4 linked regions of the Homo sapiens genome follow. The protein of the gene in region 1 interacts with the protein of each later gene in a biochemical or structural test. Each region holds a gene or a part of one and is shown in the gene's direction. Other genes may lie near its edges. The genes, in order: PAK1, CTTN, BAD and CDC42.

The links.
Region 2: of the proteins of PAK1 (region 1) and CTTN, one has a biochemical effect on the other in vitro, tested with the Homo sapiens proteins (one study listed by IntAct).
Region 3: of the proteins of PAK1 (region 1) and BAD, one has a biochemical effect on the other in vitro, tested with the Homo sapiens proteins (3 studies listed by BioGRID).
Region 4: the proteins of PAK1 (region 1) and CDC42 form a complex in vitro, tested with the Homo sapiens proteins (11 studies listed by BioGRID and IntAct, with this or other methods).

What each region holds. Positions count from the first base shown.
Region 1 is NC_000011.10:77,321,126-77,325,151, reverse strand, and holds the end of PAK1 (serine/threonine-protein kinase PAK 1), read left to right. Parts: intron 1-1,791; coding exon 1,792-1,878; 3' UTR 1,879-1,997; coding exon of another isoform or gene 1,998-2,015; 3' UTR 2,016-3,135; downstream 3,136-4,026. UniProt on the Homo sapiens protein: Protein kinase involved in intracellular signaling pathways downstream of integrins and receptor-type kinases that plays an important role in cytoskeleton dynamics, in cell adhesion, migration, proliferation, apoptosis, mitosis, and in vesicle-mediated transport processes.
Region 2 is NC_000011.10:70,421,501-70,429,948, forward strand, and holds part of CTTN (src substrate cortactin), read left to right. Parts: coding exon 1-80; intron 81-1,008; coding exon of another isoform or gene 1,009-1,052; exon of another isoform or gene 1,053-1,439; coding exon 1,440-1,495; intron 1,496-3,831; coding exon 3,832-3,901; intron 3,902-4,196; coding exon of another isoform or gene 4,197-4,279; exon of another isoform or gene 4,280-4,587; intron 4,588-7,550; coding exon 7,551-7,699; intron 7,700-8,448.
Region 3 is NC_000011.10:64,281,527-64,290,967, reverse strand, and holds the start of BAD (bcl2-associated agonist of cell death), read left to right. Parts: upstream 1-6,302; 5' UTR 6,303-6,337; exon of another isoform or gene 6,338-6,591; 5' UTR 6,592-6,599; coding exon 6,600-6,786; intron 6,787-9,441. Other genes in the region: integral membrane protein GPR137, read right to left, coding at 1,603-1,825, 2,247-2,365, 2,500-2,628, 2,754-2,903, 3,022-3,247, 3,954-4,003, 4,087-4,458. UniProt on the Homo sapiens protein: Promotes cell death. Successfully competes for the binding to Bcl-X(L), Bcl-2 and Bcl-W, thereby affecting the level of heterodimerization of these proteins with BAX. Can reverse the death repressor activity of Bcl-X(L), but not that of Bcl-2.
Region 4 is NC_000001.11:22,055,709-22,064,156, forward strand, and holds part of CDC42 (cell division control protein 42 homolog isoform 1 precursor), read left to right. Parts: intron 1-8,448. UniProt on the Homo sapiens protein: Plasma membrane-associated small GTPase which cycles between an active GTP-bound and an inactive GDP-bound state. In active state binds to a variety of effector proteins to regulate cellular responses. Involved in epithelial cell polarization processes.

The sequences.
Region 1 (4,026 bases):
GCTGCTCTCAACTTAGGGGAATTGCAGAAACATGTGATCTGAGAAAGCTGGCTTTTTAACTTGTTGGTGTACATTGTAAATATTGAAAACCATGACTTTGAGAATCACAAATCATAAAAGCTTCACATCTGTTTCTCCTGTGAGAACACACTTATAGACAGAAATACATAGAATGATATATATTGGAATTCATATCTTCATGATTTAGCTAGGATCTTTTATTCCTTTCATAGTAATAGTACGTTCTTGTTCTCAGTAGCTCTTTATACTATCTCTGTCCCAACAGAAGTTGCAGCAATTCTCAGCAAAGAATATTAGTATATATGTTTCTCTCTCTTTCTCTTTCTCTCTCTCTCTCTGTCTCTCTCTCTCTCTGTGTGTGTGTGTGTGTGTGTGTGTGTATACATATATACAATATGACTAATCAAGGGAATTGTAAGTATGGCAGAAGAATCAGATATGCTCATGTGAGTTGAGTAGTTATGTTTAGAGGTCAAATCTGGTTCTCAATTTCCTGGTAGCCAGGGCAGAAAAGGAAATGTGATAGCTCCTATATTTTTTATCAAATAGAAGAACATCCTACAGCTTTAAGACACAAAGCTTTTTTACTACTAAATGTTTAAAAAGAAAAAAAAGCACCATTTTTAAGAGGCTCTGAGAATTACATAAGGAATTGTTAGACCAGGCACGGTGGCTCATGCCTGTTATCCCAGCACTTCGCGAGGCTGAGGCCAGTGGATCAGTTGAGGTCAGGAGTTTGAGACTAGCCTGGACAGTATGGCAAAACCCCGTCTCTACTAAAAATACAAAAATTAGCCAGGTGTGGTGGCGGGCGCCTGTAGTCCCAGCTATTCGGGAGGTTGAGGCAGGAGAATTGCTTGAACCCAGGAGGCGGAGGTTGCAGTGAGCCGAGACCGCACCACTGCACTCCAGCCTGGGCAACAGAGTGAGACTCCGTCTCAAAAAAAAAAAAAAAAAAGGAATTGCTTTCTGTAACAGTTTTACTGAAAATTTAGATGCAATTTTCATATAATATTTTCTCCTAAATAGTCATTAAATGTTGAAGGTATGGCCCAAAGTACAGCCCAGTGAAAGTGATTTGGGAAAGGACCAAGCTACTGAACTTTTTACTGAATGATTAGCATTATTGGATTTGAGGATAGAACAATAAATTCCTAGATCAATGCTCCTAAAATGCAGTATTGCGATATACTACTGGGTCATGATCTATTAATACCTTCCCCAGAGGTAATTATTATTCTGATTATCACCATGGTTAGGCTTACCTCGGAAGAAATGGAATAATACAATATGAACTTGCTTGTCTGGCTTCTTTCCCTTAATGTGTCTGTGAGATTCAACCCATTTGTCAGTGTACCAATTACTTATTGTATTGCTGTGTAATTTTCTGTATAGTATTATATGAATATAACACTATTCATTTTTCCATTCTCTTGGACATTTGGGTTCTTTCTGGTTATTGGCTATTATAAGCAAATCTTTTATGAACATTTCTGTGTATGTCTTTTGGTGGCTATACAAACTAATTTCTCTTGGGAATATACCTAGGATTGGAATTACTAGAGTATAGGTAGATGTATTTATCTGTAAGTAGATGCTGCCAAACAGTTTTCCAAAGTGGTCTGTTTTAAGATGTCCTTCAATTTGGGGATGATCAGAAGCTTTCCACACAGCACCCTTTACAAACAAAGATGCCTTTATGTCTTGTAATGGTTACTGGGGAAGAATGTTAAATAGTCATGTGTCTTTTGCTATTTTTCTCCTTTCTAGCATCAATTCCTGAAGATTGCCAAGCCCCTCTCCAGCCTCACTCCACTGATTGCTGCAGCTAAGGAGGCAACAAAGAACAATCACTAAAACCACACTCACCCCAGCCTCATTGTGCCAAGCCTTCTGTGAGATAAATGCACATTTCAGAAATTCCAACTCCTGATGCCCTCTTCTCCTTGCCTTGCTTCTCCCATTTCCTGATCTAGCACTCCTCAAGACTTTGATCCTTGGAAACCGTGTGTCCAGCATTGAAGAGAACTGCAACTGAATGACTAATCAGATGATGGCCATTTCTAAATAAGGAATTTCCTCCCAATTCATGGATATGAGGGTGGTTTATGATTAAGGGTTTATATAAATAAATGTTTCTAGTCTTCCGTGTGTCAAAATCCTCACCTCCTTCATAACCATCTCCCACAATTAATTCTTGACTATATAAATTTATGGTTTGATAATATTATCAATTTGTAATCAATTGAGATTTCTTTAGTGCTTGCTTTTCTGTGACTCAACTGCCCAGACACCTCATTGTACTTGAAAACTGGAACAGCTTGGGAATGCCATGGGGTTTGATAATCTGCCAGGGACATGAAGAGGCTCAGCTTCCTGGACCATGACTTTGGCTCAGCTGATCCTGACATGGGAGAACAACCACATTTTTCTTTGTGTGTGCTTCTAGCAGCTGTTCGGGAGGACCTTGACCCAATAGTGTTCCCATGCTGTTTCTTGTGAAATGCTCTCGGCTATGTAGCAGCTTTTGATTCCCTGCATACCCTAGGCTGCTGCCCCTATCCTGTCCCTTGTTTATAACATTGAGAGGTTTTCTAGGGCACATACTGAGTGAGAGCAGTGTTGAGAAGTCGGGGAAAATGGTGACTACTTTTAGAGCAAGGCTGGGCATCAGCACCTGTCCAGCTCTACTTGTGTGATGTTTCAGGAACTCAGCCCCTTTTTCTGCCTAGGATAAGGAGCTGAAAGATTAACTTGGATCTTCTAATGGTCCAAATCTTTTGGTCACAATAAAGAGTCTCCAAATTAGAGACTGCATGTTAGTTCTGGATGGATTTGGTGGCCTGACATGATACCCTGCCAGCTGTGAGGGGACCCCGTTTTTAAGATGCATGGCCAAGCTCTCTGCAAATGGAAATGCTTACACTGGGTGTTGGGGATGTTTGCTACCTCCTGCTATTTTTGTGGTTTTGGTTCTCCCACTATGGTAGGACCCCTGGCCAGCATTGTGGCTTGTCATGTCAGCCCCATTGACTACCTTCTCATGCTCTGAGGTACTACTGCCTCTGCAGCACAAATTTCTATTTCTGTCAATAAAAGGAGATGAAAATATTCTATTGGAGTATGCCTTTCTTTTTTCTCTTCGTTTTTTCTTTCCTTTTCTAATTTTTTATATGAAATAATGAGTAGTTTCTTCCTGAACCATTTGAGAGTGGTAAGTTGCAGATAGAATGCCCCTTTACCACTATATACCTGAATGTGTATTCTTTCTTTTTAACACTTTTATTTTAAATATAAATTAAGAGAAATGGGCCAAAACCATTTGTATTGTTTAAAGAATAATTATAAACACACTTGTATCCACCAAATCAAGAAATGGAACACTGACAGTAAGAACCTTCTCTATCTTGTCCTTCCTTTCTCATTATAGCCCCCACCTAAGAGGTAACCACCATCTTGACTTTTATTTAAATAACTTTCTTGCTTTTCTGTATACTTTCATCACATTCAGGTGTGTTCCAATACAAGTAGATTTTAGTTCGGCCAGTTTTTGAACTTTAAATAAACATATCATAATAGATATATTCTTTTGTGCCTGTTATTGTTTCCACTCAAGATTATGTTTTTAAAATATATGTACCTAGTTTGTGTGTAGCTCTAGTTCATGTATTATTCCGGCTGTAGGCACTTGAGAGGAAAGTTAACTTGTCCAAGATGAATTCCCTGAGGACTGGCCTCCCAAAGGATTTGGTTTTCTGCAGAACTCTATCATAATGGACTACAGCCAACTGCTCAAGGCAGTCATACCTGGTAGAATTCTCAGGTGGCTAATTAGGCCATGGGTCTATCACATCCTACAGCTACAACCATAAGGCTTGAGCCCCAGCTCTGATCACACCAGAGAAAATGCTTCTCAAAGATGGCACAACAGAGCTAGAGGCCAGTGTTCTGTCGTGTGGTTTTACTATTGGATCCCAGCACCTAATACTACTAGAGAAGATGTAG
Region 2 (8,448 bases), 6.9 Mb from region 1:
TGTTCAGTCGGAGAGGCAGGACTCCGCTGCTGTGGGGTTTGATTACAAGGAGAAGCTGGCCAAGCACGAGTCCCAGCAAGGCACAGTTGCCACCAGCCTCCTACCCTCCCCCCGACCCTCCTGTGCGGCCACTTCTAGCACAGACTTCAGGGCTCACCGTCAGCACCTGCAACACAGTCCTCCTGTGTCACCACTTGTCAGCTGTCAGGCTGTTCGGCACTTTAAACCCATTTCTAGTAGAGCGACACTGATTTTGAGTGGTTCACTTTCTTCCCTGTGAACTTGTGATCTGTGTATGGCAGGATGCGCCAGTTAGTGTGTGGGTGCCATCTTTCTAACCCGGTGACCCATCCAGTCTCTGGACTGGGGCATCTCCGGTCTCCAGCAGCATTCTGCCCGAGGCTGTTCTGCTGTTATTGGTGACTGCCGTGAGCCACTGAGTCAGGCCTTCCAGATGAGGAGAGAGGTGTTGGTTCAACCAAACCACTGGCCATTTGACCAGGGGCTTCGTAGCAGCAAGGGCCAGGAGACAGGCGTGTTCTGTGTGGTTTCTGTGTTTCATTTGTGGTGGTGTTTTTGGCCGGGGTTGGGAGGTTTTTTGTTTGTTCTGTTTGATGACACCATATGTGTGTAACATCTCCACACAGAGCCACACAGTATGTACGTGAAGCCAGCTCTGCATCCTTCCTTAGAGCAGTTATGTTGTTACCTTCAAAATTTGGACTTGGTTATTAGAACCTGAACACATAATTGGAAAAACAGTAATTCCCTAACCTTGCAGGGAAGACTCTAGGCTTTCCACCTGCAGCGTTAGAAACACACAGCAGTGTTCAGGTGTGGGCAGGTAGACACACCTGGGGTGGTCCCGCAGACTGCATGGAGATGGCAGTGGCTCTCCGTGGCATCACTGCTGCATGACAGTGTGACTTTCATGTGGATCTGTGTTGCTGCAACGGAAGTCTTTGGCTGGTAGAATTTCCACATGGATTTTTTTTTTCTCTTAAAAAGCAAGAGAACAAACTGCGATTGAGCCTCTTTTTAGCGCTCAGTAGAGCAGGCGCACAGGAAGCAGATGAGAATAAGCCCGTGCTGGTGCGGAAGACTGTGCTATTGAAGTGGCGCGTTGCAAAGGCCTGTCCGTGCCCTCTTTCCTCGCTTAGCTCCTGCCTGCTGCCCGCCGCCCCTCCTGCCCCTCCTGCCCCTCAGGGAATGCTGAAGCCTCTGCCCCTGGCCTGTGCTCTGCTTCTCACTGCCTGTGTCTCACGACCATGGGTGGAAGCAAAACTTGCCTTGCAAGTGAAGCCTCGCTTGGCCATTCTCGTTTCTTCCCGCTGTGGTGCACCTTCTTGGGCTGTTTCTGGATCTGTCTGCATGCACCCACGGCCACCCCCATGCTCGCCTCCACCTCAGAGTAAGTGTTGTGTTTTGCCACGTTTCAGACTACTCCAAAGGATTCGGCGGGAAGTATGGGGTGCAGAAGGATCGGATGGATAAGGTAAATATTCCAGCCCCGGAGCTTAGTGTCTTCTGCCTGCAGGGGCTCTTGGTGGGCGTGGCTCACCGTGCTGGCCAACATCCACGCGCTGGGGTGGGGCACAAGTGATTTCCGTCGTGGTGGTGGTGGTGGTGGCGATGACTGACTCGGACAGTCTTGTGCTCCTCATGGCCGTGCTGTGGGATAGGCGCTGGCACCGGCCCACCTCCTAACTGGGGGCCCCAGGCCAGGCAGGCTCAGCACCTGGCTGCAGCCATAGGAACCCAGATGTTTAACATGAGAGGTGAGAGCCTCGAGGGCTCATGTCCATTTGAACTTAAATTCTTAATAGTAAATCAGATTGGAACCTGAGTGTGTTAGACTGCGTGTGGGGCTACCTCGCTGGCAGCCAGCGCTGCGTGTGCGGTGATGAGCCATGTCTCCCGTCTTCAGCCTCGTAGAGACGCGGGCTCCACACTGCCTGCTCCTGCGCGTGGCCTGTGGTCAGGGGTGGCAGGGTCAGTCCTTGCCTCGCAGCTGACCACACAGCACCATCCAGGGGCGTAGGCAGGCAGAGCAGGTGTTCGGGCTGGGCTCCCCAGGGAGCAGTAGCCTGGGCTCATTTCTGAGGGCAGGCGCGAGTTCACCAGGAGAGAAGGCTCAGGAGACCACGGAGGGGCGAGGTGTGGGCCTGGGTGGGACAGGAGTCACTGCAGGTTCTCAAGGAGCCTAGCTGCAGAGGGAGGGTGGGGAGCGGGGATAGAGCTGGCCCTGGAGAGCCCCACACACCACAGAGCATTCTGCATGTCGTGACATGCGTCACACACCACAGAGCATCTGACGTGCGTGGCCCCAGAAAGGTTAGCAGGCAAGGAACACTGGGGGGGTCTACTTTGAGAAGCCCCCGGCCTCAGCGTGGAGTCTGGGTTGTGGGGGTTGGCCTGGGCAGAGGGGTGTGGTCCTGAAGAGAGCTGGAGGGGCTCGGGTGGTGGAGAAGCAGGGCATGGTGTTTGGCGCCAAGGGACGCAGGGGAGGGAGCAGTCGGGTGGATGTGGGGTGGACGTGGGGCCAACTGTGGAGCCGAAGAACTGGGAGGAGCAGATGTGGGTGTCAGCGAGAGAGAGCTGGGGTAGGGCCGGGGCCGGGTCCGGGTGGCGTGCAGAGTTGGGAGGGGAGTAGGCACGCGGTCAGAGGACACTGGGCAGGGGGACCCAGTGAGGTAGCAGGGGCCTTGCAAGGCACTGGGACAGACGGAGGGAAGGAGCTCCCCTGTGGGTGAGTCAGAGGTTGTGGCTTTGAGGCCGGAACCTGAGGGACTGCCTGTGTTGTGGGTGTCTGTGGTCAGCATTGCTGGTGTTGGCGGTGACCGCTGAGCTTGTGAGCACGTGAGGAGGCAGTGTGTGGGTGTGGCCTTTCGTGTCATTGTCTTTCATCCAGGAGGGGGTGGAGCTTCTCTCTCTGTTTGCTGTGTGATGGAGGAGTCCAAGGCTTAGAGAGGGTGACGTAACTGCCCGGGTCCCCATACATTGTGGGGATAGGGCTACAACCCAGGCTGGGAGGTGAAGTTGCCCCCTCAGGGCAAGGTGATGTCTGCAGAGGGCCCAGTGGGTGATGGGACCCAGTAAGGCTGATGGCCTTGCCTTTGAACAGGTGCAAGCAGCTCAAGGGACATGGAGTAGACGCTGGAGCTGACTGATGGGAGGAGGGAGCGGGGTCCGAGGAAGGACAGGCGGGCCAGGAAGGGGGCAAGCAGGAGGTGCTGGGCAGAAAGGGGCCATGGTATGGGGGCTCTGGTGGCTTCTGAGCCTCAGGTGTTCTCATCAGAGGTAGTGAAACCCACAGTGAAACTGGGTACGGCCACTGGTCTCCATGAGCCCTGACAGTCTCCACCTGAGTCAGCACGTAAGAGTCATCGCCGTCGCTTGGTCAGACCATAGTTGAGTCCCCTGCAATGCAGAAAGGTGTGATTGCACCACTGGGTAGTGTGTAGGACGGGCCACTGGAGGCTTGCATGTGTCCCCAGCGTCTTCGCTTCCTGTAAATGCTCACACCTCTGGGTGGCGACGGAGGGTGGGGAAGGCTTGAGGCTGATCCCAGAATTGGTTTGTGGTAGAGCAGATGGAGATACATGCATTTCTTATGCTAATGCTGACCCACGATTGCCTGCAAATGTGGTTGGTAATAGTTTTCATGCCTCAGTTAGTTTGCAAAACCGAGAGGCCATGAAGAGTGCTCTGGGCTGTGTGGCTGGGCCTTTGGGAAGATCTGGGGAAGGCATTTGCATCTGGCAGGAGCTACCACAGGGCATGGAGAAAAGAGAAAAGTGCTCTCCTGACGCCCATGTCCTGTCTCTGCAGAATGCGTCAACCTTTGAGGATGTCACCCAGGTGTCCTCTGCCTACCAGAAGACAGTACCTGTCGAAGCTGGTGAGTCCCGGCTGATACCAGGAGCACCGTGTGGTTTCCCAGGAAAACACTGAGGGGAAGGACAGTTGTGAAACAGCCAGGAGCAGATGCACCACTAGTTGAAAGCGTGGTTGTTGCTGCGTATTTTTGGGAAAGAAAATGATCGTTCTGATGAAGATCTTGTTTCTCCTGCAGAGGTTTAGAGTCACCTTTTAGACGCAGCATGGTGCAGCCGTTTCAGTGGGGCCCGTTTCAAGGGGCTCTTCCCAGAGCAAAGGGGCTAAGTGCACATTCACAAGGGCCTCCACACTGCCAGTGACCAGCTTCTGGGAGCAGCTGGGGCCTGCCCAACTCCCTGAGCCGCTCGGTCGCAGCTGTGACAGGAGGAAGACATCATGACGTCGATGTGCAGGCGACAGCAGACATTCTCTCTGCTGCTCGTTCTTGGGCCCTTGACAGGGAGCTCGAAACCTGTCCTTTTCTGTGCTGGACACACGATGGAGTCAGATGTGGGCCCTGCCCCGGAGAGTCAAGTAGTTGGGGAAAATGTTATACATACATGAGAGCAAGTGCTAAATTTAACACAGGATGCAGAGAGCCACCACTGACTTCCTTCAGGGGCTATGGACCCACAGTTCTCAGAGATTGAGGGCCCAGGACGCTTTGACACTTTGACCACTCGTGAGAACCCCCAAGATGTTGATGTATTTGATGACATTGACTATATTAGAAATTAGAGGAATGTGGCCCGGCACAGTGGCTCATGCCTGTAATCCCAGCACTTTGGGAGGCCAAGACGGGCGGATCACGAGGTCAGGAGATCGAGACCATCCTGGCTAACACGATGAAACCCCGTCTCTACTAAAAATACAAAAACAAAATTAGCCAGGCATGGTGGCGGGCGCCTGTAGTCCCAGCTACTCGGGAGGCTGAGACAGGAGAATGGCGTGAACCCAGGAGGCGGAGCTTGCAGTGAGCGGAGTTTGCGCCACTGCACTCCAGCCTGGATGACAGAGCGAGACTCCGTCTCAAAAAAAAAAAAAAAAGAGAGAGAGGAATGGTTTATTTATTTATTTATTTTGAGACCGGGTCTTGCTGTGTCATCCAGGCAGGACTGCTGCCTCAGTCTCCTGGGCTCAAGCAGTCCTCTTGCCTCAGCCTCTGGAGTAGCTGGAACTATAAGCGCATGCCCCCTGCCCAGTTAAATTTTTTTTTTTTTTGAGACAGAGTATCACTTTGTCGCCCAGGCTGGAGTGCAGTGGCGCGGACTCGGCTCACTGCAAGCTCCGCCTCCCATCCCGGGTTCACGGCATTCTCCTGCCTCAAGCCTCCGGAGTAGCTGGGACTACAGGCGCCTGCCACCACGCCCGGCTAATTTTTTTGTTGTTGTTGCTATTTTTTAGTAGAGACGGGGTTTCACCGTGTTAGCCAGGATGGTCTCGATCTCCTGACCTCATGATCTGCCCGCCTCGGCCTCCCAAAGTGCTGGGATTACAGGCATGAGCCACTGTGCCCGGCCAAATTTTTTTATCTTTAGTAGAGATGAGGTCTCACTGTGTTGCCCAGGCTGGTCTTGAATTCCTGAGCTCAAGTGATCCACCTGCCTCGGCCTCTCAAAGTGCTGGGATTACAGGCATGAGCGACATTGGAAAGTTATTAATTGGTTCACTTAAAAAGAATAAACCTTGGCCGGGTGTGGTGGCTCATACCTGTAATCCCAGCACTCTGGGAGGCCGAGGTGGGTGGATCACCTGAGGTCAGGAGTTTGAGACCAGACTGGCCAACATGGTGAAACCCTGTCTCTACTAAAGATACAAAAAGTAGCTGGGCATGGTGGTCCACGCCTGTAATCCCAGCTACTCAGAAGACTGAGGTACGAGAATTGCTTGAACCTGGAGGCAGAGGTCGCAGTGAGCCTTGATTGCGCCACTGCACTCCAGCCTGGGCGACAACAGCTAAACTCCATCTCAAAAAATAAAAATAATAATATAACTGGCCATGCACAGTGGCTCATTCCTGTAATCCCAGCACTTAGTGAGAAGACCGGCATTGTTTTGTTTTGTAAATCTCTTTAATAGAAGATGGCTGCACTCTCACATCTGCCTCTGCAGTCTATCGATGTTACGTTGTTTAGGAAGAACATGTGGAATCACCTAGGTAGGCGATTGGGAAAGGGAGGAGTGTTTGTAACCTTGAGGGCAGCGTGGGTGTCCTTCTGCGACGCCGCCCAAGCGTGCCAGGCAGTGGTGGTCCTGCAGGCCGGCTCCTCTGGCCCTGTGAGGGACTCGCTACCCACTGTGCTTGGGCAGCACTGTGTGTTGGTCATTTGGAAAATGCTGGGTCTCTGAGTTGTGCTCGTCTTCCAGTTGTGGACACTTCTCATTCCACAATACCAAAAAAAATCACATTTGCTGTCATCATCTATTTCATCTGCAGAAGCTGAGTGGAAATCAGCATGTTCATGTGGCAGCCTCACATTTTTCAAAATTCTGTCTTTTACTTGAAAGCTGGAATTTTCCCGTTGGCAACAAATACTCCAGTAATTTTTCTTGACACAATAGGCTTAGTTCATTCACTTGGGAGAAAACTGTTGCCAGATACCCAGCTTTGCATAACCATAGTTGGACTGTCAGTTGTTATTTCAGGGAAAAACGCTATTCCATGAGAAAACAGTCAACTTGCAGCTCTCATGGTTCTATTCATGGTCCTTGAGACACAGACAGCCACCGCCACAGTCCCGGACACAGCAGGGAAGGCTCATGTGTCTTCCCACTTTTTTTTTTTTTTTTTTTTTTTTTTTTTTTGAGACAGAGTCTCGCTCTGTCGCGAGACTGGAGTGCAGTGGCACAATCTCGGCTCACTGCAACCCCTGCCTCCCAGGTTCAAGCGATTCTCCTGCCTCAGCCTCCCGAGTAGCTGGGATTACAGGTGCCTGCCACCAAGCCCAGCTAATTTTTCTATTTTTAGTAGAGACAGGGTTTCACCATGTTGGCCAGGATGGTCTTGATCTCTTGACCTCGTGATCCGCCCACCTTAGCCTCCCAAAGTGCTGGAATTACAGGTGTGAGCCACCATGCCCGGCCATATTCCCCACTTTTGACTTAAATTTTTATCATTTTTTCTTAATAGACACGGGGTCTCACTGTCTTTCCCAGGCTGGTCTCAAACTCCTGATCTCAGTCTTCCCGTCTCAACCTCCCAAAGTGCTGGGATTACAGGCATGAGCCACTGCCCTCTTTTCCATTTTTGTCACACACAATATAAAAAAATGTATACTCTGGTTGAGATTTACTATACTCAGTATACGTCAATTACAGTATACATCAGTACCTTAACTGCTTTATCAAGGACAGATGTCTTTAAGGGAAATTGGCTGTTTTTATTTAAAAAGGTGAGTGTGGTGGTGAAGATACCGTCTTATTTAGAGATCTTCCTGATGCCAGGCTTAGGGGGATTGCCAGTCCCACCAGGTACGCAGTGCCCTGCGGCAGGTGCCCAGTGCTGGCTCCGGACCAGTGGGCTGAGCTGGCAGCTGCAAGAACCTTTCCCTCCTTGGGGGTTAGGGGGATGACCGGTTCCTGGGGAGGTCACTCTGTGTGGGTGGGGCTGTTGTCCAGGAGCAGTGTTTTTGCTGTGCTCAAGGCACACGTCCTCCCTCCTTCCTCTATAGTGACCAGCAAAACAAGTAACATCAGAGCTAACTTTGAAAACCTCGCTAAGGAGAAAGAGCAGGAGGACAGGCGGAAGGCGGAGGCGGAGAGAGCCCAGCGGATGGCCAAGGAGCGGCAGGAGCAGGAAGAGGCCAGGAGGAAGCTGGAGGTGAGTGGCAAGGAGTGGGCCGCAGCGCACCCTCCCTGGGACCTGTGCCGAGGGGATTGGGAGCTCTGGGGCCTGGGCGGGGCTTATTCTCTCCTGGCCAGGTTTTCCTTGGAAGGCATGTTTAACTCTCCTTTAAGGCTCTCCATTAAGGCACTTGTCACTTGCAGCCACACATAGGCTGAGTCTCTGGCCACAATGCTCCAGGCAGCCGGCTAGCGCTATCCTGGTCTTGCCGGTCCAGCCCCAGGACCCGCCAACCTGCCCTGCCCTCTGTCCCTGAGCTGACGGCAGAGTCTTGTCGGCTTCCACCTCCACGGGGCTCCTGTCCAAATGTCAGCCTGAGTCTCTTCTCACCCCTCCCCCTCTGGAAGCCCCTCCTTTCCCAGGTGGAAGTTTGGGGTTTGGAGGGGACTCTGTGCAGAGGCAGCCTGCTCTCGGGGCCTGCTTCTGCTTGGCCAGCCCAGCCCCGCTCACCCAAGCCCCTGGGCTGTGGAGAAGCGCTCCCAGAGAAAGATGCCAGAAGTGCACCCCTGGCAGGGGCGGAGCACGAGCCTGTGTCTGGGTGCTTTGGGTCTAGCCTGGGTGGCTTGCCACTGACAAGGACTTTCCTTGTGCTCAGCTGGATCAGGGGGGTTGTGAATAGAGCCTGAGGCCTACAGATGTGTGTGTGTGAAGTTACCAGGTGTGGTTCTGCAGCTGGGGCATCTGCAGTGTGGGGCAGGCCCAGCCTGTCTGGAAGCCTGGGCTTC
Region 3 (9,441 bases), about 13 Mb from region 1:
CTGTTCTCACCCACTTGACAACCTGTGACCTCTCCAAAGACCCTCTGGTGCCTGCTGGGGTCCTCAGCCCTCATGCTGGATGGCTTTCAGCCTGGGCTTTGAGGCTGACCACCCGCTACTGGTAGGGAACCTGAACAGGTTACCAAACTCTGGAGTCTCCCTGTTCCCACTTACAGAAAAGGGATGATTAATCATCACTTCGGGGTGCTGTTCTGGGCATTAAGGAGGCCAGTGTTTAGAAATCCTCAAAACAGAGCCTGGCACACACAATAAAGTGCCCCACAAACGTTAGCAGTTTTTATTTCAACAAAAAGTGATTGTCCAGCTTCAAGCTGATTCTCTATGAGTCTCAGATGCCCTCTCTGGAGGCCCTGAGGGCCTGGTGCCCAGGATGGTCCCAAGTAAAGGGTTTTGAAGCAGGCCCAGTGATAAGCCAAGGGAACTCTGAAAAGCTGGGACAACCACCTATGTGGGCAGGGGACAGACCCTCCAGCAAAGGACTCCTAGCCATCAGACAGACCTGCCAGGGCCATGGAAGCAGAGGGCAGTGACTATGCTACTAAGGACAGTGGAGAAGAGGGCTAACGGGAGGGCATAGCTAGGGGACCACCTGTACATCTGGGCAAACCCACGCCCTGGTAGGAAGATGGGGGCTGCTCAGTCACTGCGCCAACTCCCCAGCAAGCCCTGGACTAACTCCTGACTCCTAAAGACCAGGTTGGGGTGGTGATAGGGAAACAGGGCCTCCAGAAAGTCTAATCCATTGGGGTTAAGACTCAGAAGCTGCCAGGCATGGTACCTCATGCCTGTAATCCCAGCACTTTGGGAAGCTGAGGTGGGTGGATTGCTTGAGCCCGGGGGTTCGACACCAGCCTGGGCAACATGGTGAAACCCCACCTCTAAAATTAAAAATTAAAAAATTAGTCAGGAATGGTGGCATGTGCCTGTATTCCCAGCTACTCGGGAGGCTGAGGCAGGAGGATTGCTTGAGCCTGGTAGGTTGAGGCTGCAGTGGGCCATGATCGTGCCACTGCACTCCAGTCTGAGTGACAGAGTGAGACCCTGCTTCAAAAAACAAAACAAAACAAAGAACCTCAATGGCCACATAATCAGTAATGTGGAGCTGTGGGGCCCAGCAGAGGGGCCATGTCCCTTGACCAGGAGACAGAAGGCTTCCTAAAGGAGGTAACAGTTGACGCAGGTCTTGAGGAAAGAGTAGCAACTGTTCAAGTGGAGAGGGATCTGGAGGTAGTGGGGCAATTCTGGGCCAGGAGAGCTTTGAGAACAAAGGCCTGTGTGGTCTCCTTCCCTTGCAAACTGCAGGCCCCTCCTCTCCCAGCCCACCAGCCTTGATGGGGTAAGTCACCCCTGCCCAGCCTAGCAGCCCACTTCAAGGGCTAGTGTCTGTTCAGCCTTAGGCCAAACAGGCAAAAGTGATAGGAACACAAGGCAGATGACAGACAGGTGCACAACTGTGGGGCGCAGACACTGTTTATTGAGTGGCAGGCACAGGAGAGGTAGCTGGCTCCGGTGTGGAAGCAGAGGTGGCAGGTCATGCCAGGGTGCTGTGGGCATCTGGCAGCCAGGGCCATGCCCCCCATCCTAGGGGGACGGCACAAGCTCACTATGACAGGAGCAGCAAGGAGCCGGCCAGAGGAGGGGGTAGCCACGACCCCCAGGATCCTGGGCAAGAAGCGGCAGACAAACTTGGCACAGGGGCCTAGGGTGAGGGGGACTGGGGCCTGGGTATTCTGTGGGGGAGGGAGGGGGATCACGTCTGTGGGGTGGAGTAGAGACTGTGGTGGTGGCCGCCTGGTCCTGGCACCTGGGAGAAGAGCAGAGGAGTGGTCTTCGTCTGGCTGCCCCCATACCAGCCCGGCTCACGCCCGATGGCACCATACCAGCTCCCAGAGCCTAGACTGCCCGACATACTGCAGCAGAGAAACAGGGTCAGTCTCAGGACAGTGACCAGGGCCACAGTCACAAGAGCTGCAGGAGGAAGACAGGCTTAGAACAGAACCCCTGTGACCTAGACCTTCGGGGCCCAGGACAAAGTACATCTCTAGGCAAGAGGTGGAGGCTTTAGCAATAGGAACCCAGGGGACCTCACCTAGTACAGATGGGGAAGCAAAGGCCATGGCAGGGGTGGAAGGCAAGACCCGGCTATCTCGGTCCCCCATAGCTTGATGGAGCCAGCGGGGTGGGCGGGTAGGGCAGGGGTACTGAGGCAGTGCCACGGCTCCTACCTGGTGCTCTCACCCCGGCTGTGCTCCCAGGAGCAGCCCTCATCTTCACAGTGCCCAGCCCGGTCAAAGAAGTAGGACCGAGAGGCAAAGACCTGCCCATTGAGGATGTGGCTGGTGCTCTGGGGGAGGAAGCCATCATCGATACTTACTCCTGTCCTGCACTGGCCTCCCAGGCCCAACCCCAGACTCCAACCCAGGATTTGCAACATCCGCCCCCTCCACTGGCCCCACAGAAGAGGGAGCAGACCCTTACCAGGTCCTGTGGGGGCCGGTGCACCCGGAAGAAGCCCACCAGCAGGGTGGTGGGCAGTAGCTCCCACACGAAGAGGATGAGGCCAAATACCAGGTAGCCTTTGTTCCCCAGGTCATTCACCAGGTCCGCCTGTGGGAAGGCAGGGGCTGGTGCCAGTCTGCAGTCACGCCAAAGGGGTAGTGGGACAGGGCCCAGGCCAGCTGGGGCCAAGGTGCCACGGCTACTAAGGAGGTGGCAGACATGCGTATGCCCACCTGGTCAGACACATTGTACCAGTCGTAATCGAAGGTGTCCAGCCGGCTCTGGGGGGCCAAGGCCAGTGCTGTCAGGTTGTAGCAGGCCCGGCTGGCATAGAGCAGGACCATGGCGCCACCCATCGCGGCCGCCTGGCACACACTGGTCCCCTGGCACAGGTAACAACAGAGGACCCTCAGGGAGAGAAGGCTCCCAGCTTCCTCTACACCCTGAGAACCGCTGCCGAGAGACCCAAAAGACACCTGGGCATCAGTGCTGCAGCCCTACCTTGGCCTCCAGGTAGATGCTAGTGGAGGGCGCCCGCCTGGCGACGAGGCAGAGGCAGGCAGCAAGAGACAGCGCGCAGATGACGAACAGGGAGTCGCTCACCAGGACGCGGACAAGCAGCAGGGCCCAGGGCTGTGCCCGGCGCCGATGGGAGAGCACAGCACACAGCACGTTCACCAGCAGAAAGAGCAGCGAGGCCCCCACAAAGGCCCCTCGGACAGCGAGCCTGCAGCCACAGCACAGTCAGCGCGGGCCCTCAACAGCCCTCAGCACTCACCACCTGCCCCACCTCCTGCAGGAAACCCCAATGTCGACAAAACTCAGGGCATCCAGTCTGAGCCCTGTTCCTCCACTCTTACAGATGGAGAAACTGAGGCCCAAAAAGGTCAGAAGGTGACTGACAGCCATGGTACTTCGGAAGGTGCACCAACTGGAGTCAGAAGTCTCTGTCTGAGCCCCAGCTCTGCGACCTTGATCCTGCTGTCTTACCTGGCTGGGCCTCAGTTTCTTCATCTCTCAAGGGAGGATAGTAGCCTCTCAGGGAAATTGTACAAATAAAAGATGGCTGGGAAAGCTCTTTATAAACCGTAAGACACTGTACAAATGACGAGGGCATTGCGGCCCCAGGTCACCCAGGAGTGCATATGGCTTTGGTGCTTCCATGGGCTGGAGCCTCCAGCTCGCCCTCCATGGTGGATGACACTGGGGCCCTCTCCCTCACACTACCACAAGCATTCCTATTCCTGTGCCTTGCAGATCTGCAAGGCCTCTGCTGAGCCATCTGCGCCAGGTGCTTTAACTTTTCCAAGATCTTCCACAGACATTCCCTGGGTTGCCTTTGTCTCAGCCCTGAGAGGTGGGAAGGGATCTACATGGGACTGTCACCTGCCCCTGACCTGGAGGCTGAGCCCACCAGTGTCCCGAGTACTTACAAGCCTCGGCTCATCTCCGGCCGACGCTTCACCTTGGCCTTGAACACCACCTAGGAGCAGAGATGCCCTTCACTCCTGTGGGTCCTTGAGGCTTGCCACCTCCCGCCCCCCACCCGGGACCACAGTTGGTTACCTGGGCAAAGTAGAGGTTCATAAGCGTCAAGGTGAAGAACTGCAGGCAGACGGGGCAGCAGTAGAGAAGCCAGAAGGGCAAGGGCCCCAGGCGGTTGGCGCGGGGAGTATCTCGGAAGTAGAAGGAGAAGAGGGTGGTACGCAAGGCGGCCCAGAGCAGACAGAGGGCCAGGAACACCGTCTGATAGCTGAGACGCTTGTGCCCATACAGAAGCACCAGCCAGAGCTGGGCATAGACGGAGAAGAAGAGCAGGGCATACAGGGTGGTGTAGGCAGCTGTCAGCCCCAGGGTCACAGCAGGTGGCAGCGCAGGCACCAGCCCGGCAGCAGGCACCAGGCCAGACAGGTTACTCTCCATGTCAGGGAGGGAGGCCTGAATCCCGGAGACAGACAAGGAGGGACTGTCGGCGGGACCAGGGAAATAAATACGGAGGGGTGGGAATTGCAGGGTGCAGAGAGGGAGATGGGGCGCTCAGGAGGAAAGAAGTTGTGGCTGACAGGCCCCTCCTCCTCAACAGAGAGACCCTTGCCCTTGGGGAACACAGGCAGCCTGGGCCCCAGGCCCCTCACTCAGGGGCATGGAAGGGCAGTCTCTTTTCTCCAGGACAGACCGGATAGGGGTTGGGGGTGTCTCCTCCCTGGGCCTACCCCAGAGCCAAGGATGGGGGGATGCAGAGGCCCAAGGAGAGGACTCCCTGGCCTCGGTCGTTCATGTCGTCCTGGGTGGAGGGGGAGAGCCGGCTGATACCCGTCGGGTCAGGGCAGCGGCCGCTGCGAGGGGCGCCCAATGCCCCGCTCTCCCCCTCCCCAAGCTGGGGGAGGCTCTCTCTCCTCCAATAATGCGGATGGGGAGGGCCTCTGCCTCCTGTCCTCGTAATTCTCGAAAGCTGCCCCCGCCCCACCCTCCCCCACCGCGTCCACGCTCCAGCCTCAAGGGGAGGGAGGAGGCGGACGCCAGGTCCTCAGGCCGCTGATGGGAGAGCCGGCTCAGGTCGTGGGGACCCGGGGCTCCGGCTCCCCGGCTCCCGCTGCTCCGCCCCCCTCCCCCTCCGCGCCTGCGCGGGCGCCGTTCGCTACGCAAATTGCGCAGCGGCCCGGCTGGCTCCGCAGTCCAGCGCCGCACCCGGCGTGAAACCGTACGAGAATTGGCGCGAGCTGCGCCGCTGGCGGGCGCCCGGGGTTACGGGAGGCGGCAGGAGGGCGGCCGAGTTGCGGGGGCCGTGCCGCATCCAGGGGGTCCCCGGGTGGGCCGTGCCCCGTGCCGCCCGCCTTTACTTGTATGGGGGTCCGCCAGTTCCCACGCTCCTCTCTCCTATACCCAAATCGGGGTCGTGCCGCCCGGCCGGGGGCGGCAACGGATTCCCGTCCCTCGGTCTCTGAAGAAAACTTCCGCCCATAGCCAAGATGGCCCCCGGGCCCCGCCCCCGGGCCTGAACCCGCGGAGCCCCGAATCCCCCGCGCGGGCCCGCCCCTCGCCCCGGCGCGCCCGCGGCCCTGCTCACCTGGCCGGCCGCCTGCCAGGCGTGAAGCCCCCACGGGCCCTACGGTCCTCCCTCACCGGGTCCCCGGCCCTCCTCCCGCGCCCGGGCAGCCATCCCAGCCAGGGAGGAGGTTCCTTTCCTTATCTCCAGTGCCCCCGAGATGGCGCGGGAGGTGTCCCCCGAGGCGGGCGGCGCGAAGCTTCCGCGCCTGGGAGGAGGAGCGGGGAGCGGGACTTTCCGACCGGGCACCCAGTCCAGGCGGAGCGGTAACAATAGCAACAATAATCACATCCGACGGCTGAGCTTCAGTTGTGGCTGTGCCAAGCGCCTTCGCCCGCAGTAATCACTCCCTTCACAAAGTTTTCACTGGCTCCCGGGGGAGCTGTCACTATCCCCACTTCACTGGGGGGAAACTAAGGCCCAGAGGGGCTGAAGGACTTGTTGGCAGAAGTGGGTCTCCAGGTTCCAAATGGGGACCCCAGAGAATCCCTCTCCTGCTCCCACACACGCCCAAGGTGTGAGGCAGCGAGGATGTGAGCCCCGGGGCCGAAGGAGGGAGGAAAAAGGATGCGGACGAGGAGCCTTGGATCCGGCGGGGGGGCGGGGCCGGGCCGGGTTGACCCCGCCTCTGGACCTACCCGAGTGACGTTCCGAGAGGTGATTGGGCCAGGTCGCTGACAGTTCCCGTTGCCCAAGCAACTAGGGCCCGGAGCCCGGGGTGCTGGAGGGAGGCGGCAGGCCCGGGTCAGGGGCCTCGAGATCGGGCTTGGGGTGAGACCTGTGCGCCGTCACCACGGGCGGGGCGGGGCCTGGGTCCACCGGGGTTCTGAGGGGAGACTGAGGTCCTGAGCCGACAGCCTCAGCTCCCTGCCAGGCCAGACCCGGCAGACAGATGAGGGCCCAGGAGGCCTGGCGGGCCTGGGGGCGCTACGGTGGGAGAGGAAGCCAGGGGTACCTGCCTCTGCCTTCCAGGGCCACCGTTGGCCCCAGCTGTGCCTTGACTACGTAACATCTTGTCCTCACAGCCCAGAGCATGTTCCAGATCCCAGAGTTTGAGCCGAGTGAGCAGGAAGACTCCAGCTCTGCAGAGAGGGGCCTGGGCCCCAGCCCCGCAGGGGACGGGCCCTCAGGCTCCGGCAAGCATCATCGCCAGGCCCCAGGCCTCCTGTGGGACGCCAGTCACCAGCAGGAGCAGCCAACCAGCAGCAGCCATCATGGAGGTAAGTACCCCACCACCTCCACCTGCCGGGACACCTCACCCCCAGCCCACTGGCTCCCTGCATCCCAGTTGCATCCACAGGCACTGAATGCTTTGGGTCGGTCCCCAAACTCTCAGAGCCCCAGTTTCCTCTTTCGTAAAACAGCAATTAATAACCACCATTGTAGGACTGTTGAGTTAATTAGCAGGAACATATAGGATGCACTTGATTACAGAGCTGGTGCACATTAAAGCTAAAAAATGGTTGCTGCCGGGCGTGGTGGCTCACACCTGTAATCTCAGCACTTTGGGAGGCCAAGGCAGGAGGATCGCTTGAGCCCAGAAGTTCAAGGCCAGCCTGAGTGACTTAGGGAGACTCCAGCTCTTAAAATACATATATATATATATAGCAGCTATTAGTGTGGGGTTAGGACAGAAATCAGTGACAGGCAGGCAGTGATCCGAAAAGGAAAAGGGGCCTGCCTAAGGCCACACCTTCCTGGTGTTTCTTTCCTTAGAATGTGGGGGCTGGAAGCCTCCTTGGTGCCCTGCCCCAGGCTACATGCTTTCCCTGGGATTAGGCCTTCCAGCTCCCAGATGTGTTCTTTCTTGCCCTGTGGCTCGTACCCACAGCAGGACTGTCCTGGCACAGTGGCCAGGGGCAGATGACCTCAAGGGGCAGACAGTCCTCCCAGACAGCAGGGCTGTGTGGGGTGAGAAGCACAGGCTCCAAGATGGAAGGATGGACACTGGGGTTCTATGTCCATTTCTCAGTAGGCTCTAGCACCCCTGTGCCCAGCACTGGCCTTGGCACCTGGAACAACAACAGATATCTTCTGAACACAAAAACCAGGTCAAGCTGGGTGGGGTGGCACATGTCTGTAGTCCCAGCAACTCAGGAGGCTGGCTTGAGCCCAGGAATTCAAGACCAGCCTGGGCAACATAGCCAGACCCCATCTCTAAAAATAGAAAACTAGGTCATGTCACTCTGGCACTGCAGCTTAAAAGACCTCCTCCCCATTTTCAGGATTAAGAAGGCTTAAGAGGCCTCTTTCCCCTCGCTCTCTTACGGATAAACACCCACACTCGATTCTCTCAGATTGGACCCCATAGCTTGCTTTCTTTTTTTCTGTTTGTTTTGTTTTGTTTTGAGACAGGGTCTCGCTCTATCACCCAGGAGGGAGTACAGAGGTGCGATCTCAGCTCACTGCAGCCCGGAACTTCTGGGCTTAAGTGATCCTCCCACGTAACTGGGAATACAGGTGTGTGGACCACACCCAGTTAATTTATTTTTTACTTTTTCTTTTTTTTTTTTTTTTTTTCCTGAGACGGAGTCTCACTCTGCTGCCCAGGCTGGGGTGCAGTGGTGCAATCTCGGCTCACTGCAACCTCTGCCTCCTGGGTTCAAGCAGTTCTCCTGCCTCAGCCTCCAGAGTAGCTGGGACTACAGGCGCGTGTCACCATGCCGGGCTAATTTCTTGTATTTTTATTAGAGATGGGGTTTCACCGTGTTAGCCAGGGTGGTCTCCATTTCCTGACCTCGTAATCCACCCGCCTCAGCCTCCCAACAGTGTTGGGATTACAGGCGTGAGCCACCATGCCCAGCATTTTTCACATTTTCATGAGATGAGGGCAGGGGCGGGGTCTCCTTTTGTTGCCCAGGCAGGCCTCAAACTCCTGGGCTCAAACGATCCTCCTGCCTCAGCCTCCAGAACAGCTGGGACCACAGGTGCATGCCACCACACCAGCTCATTTTTTATTTTTTGTAGAGGTGGGGTCTTGCTTTGTTGCCCAGTCTTGTCTCGAATTCCTGGGCCCAAGCAATCCTCTCACCTTGGCCTCCCAGACTGTTGAGATTACTGGCGTGAGCCACCATGCTCAGCCTCCACAGCTTTCTTTAACTTCCTGAGCTTGCACTTGGCCATTTTTCTGCTCACAAACTTCCCCTGCTCTCTGCCCCCCACACACACTCAGCATTCACTCGCGCCACACAGTGAGTGCTCACCGTGTGACACAGGCTGTTCCAGTTGCTAGGGGGCCTCGGTGAACCCAAGCGTCAGGAATCCTTGCCCTTGTGGAGCTTACCTTCTAGTGAGCTGGTGGGGCCATGAGCAAACAAGCACAAAAGCATCCTATCATGCGTGAGAAGATTTGTATGGGGGCAGCATGTAAAAGAGTTAAGAGAGGCCGGGCGCGGTGGCTCACGCCTGTAATTCCAACACTTTGGGAGGCCTAGGTGGGCGTATCACAAGGTGAAGAGATGGAGACCATCCTGGCCAACATGGTGAAACCCCATCTCTACCAAAAATACAAAAATTAGCTGGGCATGGTGGCGCGCACCTATAGTCCCAGCTACTCGGGAGGCTGAGGCAGGAGAATCGCTTGAACCCGGGAGGCGGAGGTTGCAGTGAGCCAAGATCGTGCCACTGCACTCCAGCCTGGCGACAGAGTGAGACTCATCTCAAAAAAAAGAGTTAAGAGAATCCGGAGTCACAGGGGCGGGGGGAGTGATGGTAGCAGAGGTGGTCAGCACTCACCTTGGTGAGAAGCACCACTGGAGCCAAGGCCACAGGGATGATGGGAAGAGAGTTCCAGGCAGAGAGAAGGGCAGATGGTAAGGCCTCGAGGGCAACACCTGCTCCTGGCTAGGGTGGGCCTAGGGGAGGGGGTTTAGGAA
Region 4 (8,448 bases), on another chromosome or scaffold:
GAATGCCTGAACTCAAGCTATTTGCTCCTGTTGGCCTCTGAAAGTGCTGGGATATAGGCATGAGCTGCTGTGCCGCTGACAGGCTTTCTTGGAAGTAAAAGACTAGTTGTGCTTTTATTTATAGATGTATTTTAAATGCACTTCTCTATTGTTTTAGAGTTTTTTTTTTTTTTTTTTTGAGAGGATGAGAAACAATGAGCACCTTAGGCTACAGGGCTTCCTTTGAAGGGGAGAGAGGGTTAAATATTGTGTTAACATATCTTCCATGAAAATATCTCTCTGTATTAAAAGGCTTCATTCTGGAATTTTATGGTAATGCCTTATTCAGTGTTCTCTTCCACATAGATTTCCTCATTAGATTGTAAGTTCTGTGAGGGCAGGGCTTTGGCCTGGCATGGTCACCCCATTGCTAATGCCTAGAATACTGCCATACATACAGTAGGTTTTAAGAAATATTTTTTAAGTGAATGAATTTGATGATGTCTGAGGGTTAACGTTTTCCCTAATATTCCATGGGCCTTTTTGCTGTGTTTCCTGAGACAGCTTTTGTGCTTGGTCAGCCATATCTTTATTTGGGCTCATTGAAGTAGTGATTACTAATCTACTCTTGCTTGACTTTTTCCATCTGTTTAGGTCAGTATCTTCTGCAGCTGCACTGTCTGGACAATTTACCATCACTTAGAAAATCTGTGATGACTACTAGTTCTCTTACTCTCCTAAAAATTATTCACTTAATGTTTGTTTCCTTATCTTCCTTTATTTCTTTGTTTGCAAATAACTTTTACCGCTTGTTCACTACTGTATCAGATTCCTGGTCATGTTATGCTTTGTGTCTTACTAGTTTCTACTTTTAGTTTCTCATACCTTCAGTCCAAAATATTTTTACTAAAGCAATTTTCATTACTTGCCATTTCAGCTACCTCTGCTGCTGCTGCTGCTATTTTAAGTCCTGAATGTCAAAACTCTTCTGGGACATTGATCTCAAACTGCTTATTCCGTGAAGTGAAACCAGGCTTTCTGCCACCAATGTGGCGTCCCTTTTTGCAATTTTAGAAAAATATTTTTTAAATCAAAGATTTGGCATTAGCCATTATACTAAAGTCCAGAACAATTTCTAATAGAGCAGAAAACTATATTGTTCAGCCATGGTATTCACTAAGCACTGGTGCTCTATCACCTTAAGACAAAGTCTGATTTAGGCTCTGTTACTGTTGTTCTGTAATGCTTTACACTTTAACCTTGCATCCTTTTCTGTAAAATTAAGCCATTGCCATTTGCCATTTCAATTCTGCTGTGTGTTCTTGATTGGTATATTGCTACTATAATGATTAAAAGCATAGACTCTGGAACCAGACTGCCTGGGTTCAGATCCTGGTTCTGCCACTTATTAGGTATGTGCAGTCTAAGTAACGTCTTTGTGACTCAGGTTTACTTCCTCTAAAATAGGGGTAGCAGTAGTGCTTACCTAACAGGGCTGCAGTGTTAGGAAGATTGAATTAATATATATGAAGTGTTTAGGACTGTTCACTGGCACATAGTGAGTGCTGTATAGATTTTTGCTCTTGGCACAACTGTGAGGACCCTTCCCCGCCATCTTTGAGAAGCTGTGTTTCTCTCAAACATAAACATTTTAATAACCATCCTTCTCCCGGACTAATCTGATGAATCCAAAAACATTTCTTTTTTCTTTTTTGAGATGGAGTTTTGCTCTTGTTGCCCAGGCTGGAGTGCAATGGCGCGATCTCGGCTCACCGCAACCTCCGCCTCCTGGATTCAAGTAATTTTCCTGCCTCGGCCTCTTGAGTAGCTGGGATTGCAGGCATGCGTCAGCGCCCCTGGCTAATTTTGTATTTTTCGTAGAGATGGGGTTTCTCTATGTTGGTCAGGCTGGTCTCCAACTCCTGACCTCAGGTGATCCGCCCGTCTCGGCCTCTCAAAGTACTGGGATTACAGGCATAAGCCACTATGTCTAGCCCAAAAACATTTCTAAATGAAGTGGAGATTGCTTTACCTTTTTTTTTTCTTTTTTTTTTGAGACAGAGTCTCGCTCTGTCACCCAGGCTGGAGTGCAGTGGCATGATCTTGGCTCACTGCAACCTCTGCCTCCCGGGTTCAAGTGATTCTCCTGCTTCGGCCTCCTGAGTAGCTGGGATTACAGGTGTCCGCCACCACACCCGGGTAATTTTCGTATTTTTAGTAGAGGTGGGGGGGTTTCACCATGTTGGTCAGGCTGGTCTGTAACTCCTGACCTCACGTGATCTGCCTGCCTCGGCCTCCCAAAGTGCTGGAATTAACAGGCGTGAGCCGCTGCATTCCGGCCTCCTTTACATTTTTATCCGTTACCTTTACCGTTGTCATAGAAGCAAGGGTGTCAGGCCTCAGGTATGCAGTATAGTCTGTGGACCCATCAGCATAAGTGTCACCTGGGAGCTCATTAGAACTATCAGGATTCATCCCAGTCTTACTGACCCAGAATCTTATTTTAATAAGATCCCCACATGATTTTTATGTGTATTAAGGCTTGAAGCACCCTCTTCAGGACTGCTAGAGTGATGTCTCAAATTTCGGAAACAATGTGAATGCTTTATTTCATTTTATTTTCCTATGGAAGCATAACCTGGTTTATTTTAGGCAGTGTACCACAATTTATTGCAAGGATCATAATCTGAAAATGAATCTGAAGCATATTTAGTTTTTAAAGGAATTGTTGCTTCCTGCCTATTACGTAGAATTGCCTCATGTCTGCCCATTATCAGGAACTAATGTGTTATTTAAAGTTTTTTTTTTTTTTGAGATGGAGTTTTGCCCTTGTTGCCCAGGCTGGAGTGCAATGGCATGATCTCCACTCACTGCAACCTCCACCTCCCGGGTTCAAGTGATTCTCCTGCCTCAACCTCCCGAGTAGCTGGGATTACAGGCATGTGCCAGCATGCCTGGCTGATCTTGTATTTTTAGTAGAGATGGGGTTTCTCCATGTTGGGAGTTTCTCCATGCTGGTCAGGCTGGTCTCAAACTCCCGACCTCAGGTGATCCACCCACCTTGGCCTCCCATAGTGCTGGGATTACAGGCGTGAACCACCGCACCCAGCCGAATTACGTATTTTTTAATTTTATTTTTATTTTTTAGAGATAGAGTCTTGCTATGTCACCAGGCTGCAGTGCGTGGTGTGATTATAGCTCACTGTAACCTTGAACTCCTGGGCTTAAAGGATCCTCCAACCTCAGCCTCCCAAGTAGCTGGGATTGCAGGCACGCACCACCACACTTGGCTAATTGTAAATATATATATATATTTTTGTAGAGAATGGGGCCTTTTTATGTTGCCCAGGTTGTTCTTGAACTCCTGGCCTCAAGTGACCTCCCACCTTGGCCTCCCAGAGCTGTGGGATTACAGTTGTGAGCCTCTGCACCGGGCCTTAATTTTTTTTTTTTTTGAGACGGAGTTTTGCTCTTGTTGCCCAGGCTGGAGTGCAATGGCGCAATCTCGGCTCACCGCAACCTCCGCCTCCCAGGTTCAAGTGATTCTCCTGCCTCCACCTCCCTAGTAGCTGGGATTACAGGCATGTGCCACCACAGCACGGGGCCTTAATTATACATTTGAACTTAAGTGACATTTTATTGAAAACTAATTGTGGTGACGAGGAATGGTCTAAGCATATGATTAGGATAATTCATATTCATTATGAAAACTTAGGTGAAATACAGACTTGGCATTTAGCTTGTCAAATGTAAACATGTTTTCTGCTTTCTTTGCTAAAATCATATTTCCAATTTCAAGGGAAAATGTTAAGAACCAAAATCATCTTTTTCAGCTACCCGCCTGAAAAAATTATTGCTATTTTTCTTTTCTTTTTTTTGAGAATTCTCGCTCTGTTGCCCAGGCTGGAGTGCAGTGGTACGATCTTGGCTCACTGCAACCTTGCCTCCCAGGTTCAAGCGATTCTCTTGCCTCAGCCTCCCAAGTAGCTGGGATTACAGGCGCACACCACCATGCCTGGCTAATTTTTGTATTTTTAGTAGAGACGGGGTTTCACTATGTTGGACAGGATGGTCTTGAACTTCTGACCTCAGGTGATCCGCCTGCCTTGGCCTCCCAAAGTGCTGGGATTACAGGCGTGAGCCACGGCTCCCAGCCTGTTATTTTTCAAGGGCCAGATTGAATTTATTTCTCTGATATTTCCTTTTTCCTTCTTTAACTATATGGTGTAGGAGAAATTCTCCAGGACTATCCCTGAGAGCTGGGGGATCAGTGTCTCAGGAACACCTGTGTTTATTACCTGTGTCCATTCTCTGTGTCTTAAGTGGCCATTTGAAGCCATCTACGTCCTTTTCAATTGAAAGATTATCAGTAGGCTGGGTGCGGTGGCTCATGCTTGTAATCCCAGCACTTTGGGAGGCTGAGGCAGGCAGATCACCTGAGGGCTGGAGTTCAAGACCAACCTGGCCAACATGGTGAAACCCCGTCTTTACTAAAAATACAAAAATTAGCCATGGTGGCATGCACCTGTAATCCCAGCTACTTGAGAGGCTGAGGCACGAGAATCGCTTGAACCTGGGATGCAGAGGCTGCAGTGAGCGGGGATGCACCACTGTTCTCCAGCCTGGGTGACAGCTGAGACTCCGTCTCAAAAAATTAAAAAAAAAAAAGATTATTGCAATTCATTACTCCATGTGGAAGGAGGAGAGGTGTCTGAGAACAGATCAAATGAGGAACAGATGATTAAACCAGAGGGAGATGGAGGTGGAATAAAAGAATATTATGTTAATTAGTGTTAAGGGGTATGAGAAAAGAGGATAAATTTAGTAGAAGAAAGCATAAACAAGATTTCAGCTATGGTTCATTTGCTTTGCTGGAAGACAGTTTAGGAGTATTTGTAATATTTTTAGTTTGTTTTTAATCTATATAAAAGCAGATGAAGAGGAGTGGGAAGTGAAAGAATAATGTTACTTGAATAACACTTATCTCTGGTTTCAGGGATTTTCATTACAACTTTACTAGTATTTGTTTCATTAGCTGAATACTATTGGAGAAGAACTCAGTTTTAGATAAATTCTGAAATGGAATTAATACATTCATATCACTTGCTTGCCTAAAAAACATTTTTATTATAGGGTTTAAGATTAACAAGATTTTAAAATAAGTGATTAGATTTTAGAATGTGTAAAGTTTGGTTTATAACTTGAAAGGATAGTTCTATGGATATCAGTGTTTTTTTATTTTGCTATTTTATTCGTGCTGTTTATTTGCTCTGTTCATCATAGGGGCAAAGGAAATGTTAGATCATCCTAATAGTTGATAAGCTAGTAAAGATGAGGGTAGGGGATAATTTTAGAGTAAGGCCTGTGTGGCTTAGTGTGTTTCAGAATATCTGAAAGACATTTCCATGGGCTTGGGTGTCAGATAAATTAGAAACCCAGCCGGGCAGAGTGGCTCACGCCTGTAATCCCAGCACTTTGGGAGGCCATGGCGGGCGGATCACCTGAGGTCAGGAGTTCGAGACCAGCCTGGCCAACATGGTGAAACCCCGTCTCTACTAAAAATACAAAAAATTAGCCAGGTGTGGTGGCATGTGCCTGTAATCCCAGCTACTCAGGAGGCTGAGGCAGGAGAATCGCTTGAACCCGGGAGGTGGAGGTTTCAGTGAGCCGAGATTGCACCACTGCACTTCAGTCTGAGTAACAAGAGCAAAACTCTGTCTCAGGAAAAAAAAAAAAAAAGAAACCCTTTATTATATCTTCATCCTGGAAATCATAATGTATATAAGTTTATTTTAAAGGGTTAGGGAAGTTAGACGGTCAATCAGTTTAACTTCATGTTTCTTTCTTTTTTTTTTTTTTTTTTTTTTTTTTTTTGAGATGGAGTCTTGCTCTATCAGCCAGGCTGTAGTGCAGTGGCATGATCTTGGCTCACTGCCACCTCTGCCTCCCGGGTTCAAGCAATTCTCCTGCCTCACCCTCCTGAGTAGCTGGGATTACAGGTGCCCGCCACCATGCCCGGCTAATTTTTGTATTTTTAGTGGAGATGTTGGCCATCTCCACTTTAGTGGAGACCGTGTTGGCCAGGCTGGTCTCGAACTCCTGACCTCAAGTGATCCGCCCCCTTCAGCCTCCCAAAGTGCTGGGATTACAGGCGTGAGCCACTGCGCCCGGCCTAACTTGATGTTTCTTAAACTTGTTTGATGACGTTTCATCCTCCCCATCACCCCTATGGAACACCCTTTTTTATTTTATTTATTTCTTTTTTTTGGAGAACGGATTCTTACTCTGTCACCCAGGCTGGAGTGCAGTGGCGTGATCTTGGCTCACTGCAACCTCTGCCTCCTGGGTTCAAGCAATTCTGCCTCAGCCTCCCGAGTAGCTGGGACTACAGGCATGTGCCACCATACCCAGCTAATTTTTGTATTTTTAGTAGACACGGGGTTTCACCACGTTGGCCAGGCTGGTCTCAAACTCCTGGCCTTAAATGATGTGCCTGCCTTGGCCTCCCAAAGTGTTGGGATTACAGGCGTGAGCCTCCATGCCTGGCTGTTTGACCCATTTAAAAAATGGCTTGTGGTTTATAAGACAAATTGTTTGAGAATCTGAATGTAGGTACTTCTACCTCATCAGCTAGAACAAAGAAAGTCTAAATAATCATAGTTTGTTTTGTAGTTGGCATCTCACCTCATAACTTTTAAAAGAAAGGTTCTGAATTTGTCACGTTTGCTGCCTAGGTAATGTAGTGACTTATTTTATGCTGCAAATGTCTGCTTGTTTAGGATTTCTGATATAGGCTGGCATGATTTCATTCTTGTAGACTTACGACCAAATTACTCTGTGCTGATTCTGAAAAGATTTGTCTTTTTGGTGCATGTATAAGAACATAAGTTGCCTGATCTTAAGAGTTTTTTTCTGATTGGGTATGGTGGCTCATGCCTGTAATCCCAGCAGTTTGGGAGACCTAGGTGGGAGGATTGCTTGAGGCCAGCAGTTTGAGACGAGCCTGGTAGCCTGGTCAACATAGTGAGACCGTGGCTCTATTTAAAAAAAAAAAAAAAAAAAAAAAAAAAAAAAAAAAGATTTTTTCCGAACTTATCCATTTGTCTATGGTACAAACCTATCCTCTAATTTTTCAAACCAAAAAACGTCTTTATAACTTTGTCCTTAAACACTCCACCTCCAACCTGATGACCTATTCTCTATTTCTATGCTACTACCGCAGGGCAGATCCTCCATTTCAATCTTAGATTATTACCCTAGTTTCTTAGCTGACTTCCTTGACTATCTGGTTGTCTTTGGCAGCCCACCTTGGAATACAGGCACAATATTGATACTCCTAAAACACTGTTCATGGATATGGAAGAAGTGACTGTTCTGCTTAGCTTTTAGAGTCTATATGACTTGGACTCATAGTTTTTTTTTGTTTGTTTCTTTTTTCCACTTTGCATGCTTGCTTGTGCCTTTTCTCCTGATACTCCTATCTAACTAGAGATTTATTTTCACATTATTTTAGATTACTCTCCCATGTTTACTCTGAAAATCTGTGGCACTCATATTTCATAGTGTAAAATTGTAGCAATCTGAGACTACTACAGTTGTTAGCCTCTTCTCCTTATAACCAGTAAAGTATACTAGATGATGTATGATGAACTTTCTAGCATAGAATTTGGTACAGAGTAGGCATTTAGTAAATTATTGAAATGTGTTAAAGGCCTTTGAAGGCAAGATTTCTGTTACCCAGTGTAATGCTGTAGTAGGCATTTAGATATCTTACTTAGATAACTTTTGTAATAAGTTAATAGGATTTCGTTCTTCCAAGAACCTACTCTATTTTAACAGATGTTTTAGGTCCTAACTTGTGTCCTAATTAGATAGAGAGGGTCTGTTAGGTGCTTGGGATCTTGTTCTTCAACTGCACACATACCAGCACAACTACTGTTAAATTTCTTTTGCGCTTTTTTCCCCTTTAGGACAAAAAAAGGATTTAACAGTTATGTGCTTTTAATAACATTGTATTACTTTGTTGGTAACCTTCACAACTTTTTTTTTTGAGACAGAGTCTTGCTCTTGTCATCCAGGCTGGAATGCAGTGATGCCATCATGGCTCACTGGAACCTTCGCCTCCCGGGTTCAAGTGATTCTTGTGCCTCAGCCTCCCGAGTAGCTGGGATTACAGGTGCGAGCCACCACACCGGCTACTTTTTGTATTTTTAGTAGAGATGGGGTTTTGCCATGTTGACCAGGCTGGTCTGGAACTCCTGACCTCTTATGATCTTCCTGCCTTGGCCTCCCAAAGTGCTGGGATTACAGGCGTGAGCCACTGCGCCAGGCCTTCACAGTCATCTTTAGTATGTATAACATTTCATCCTGTGGTGTATTATTACTTGTTTTTTTTTTGTTACATTAACTGTTTTGATGATACAGCATCTCATTGTTTCTTGATAAAGTATTTCCTTCTTTTTGGATAAA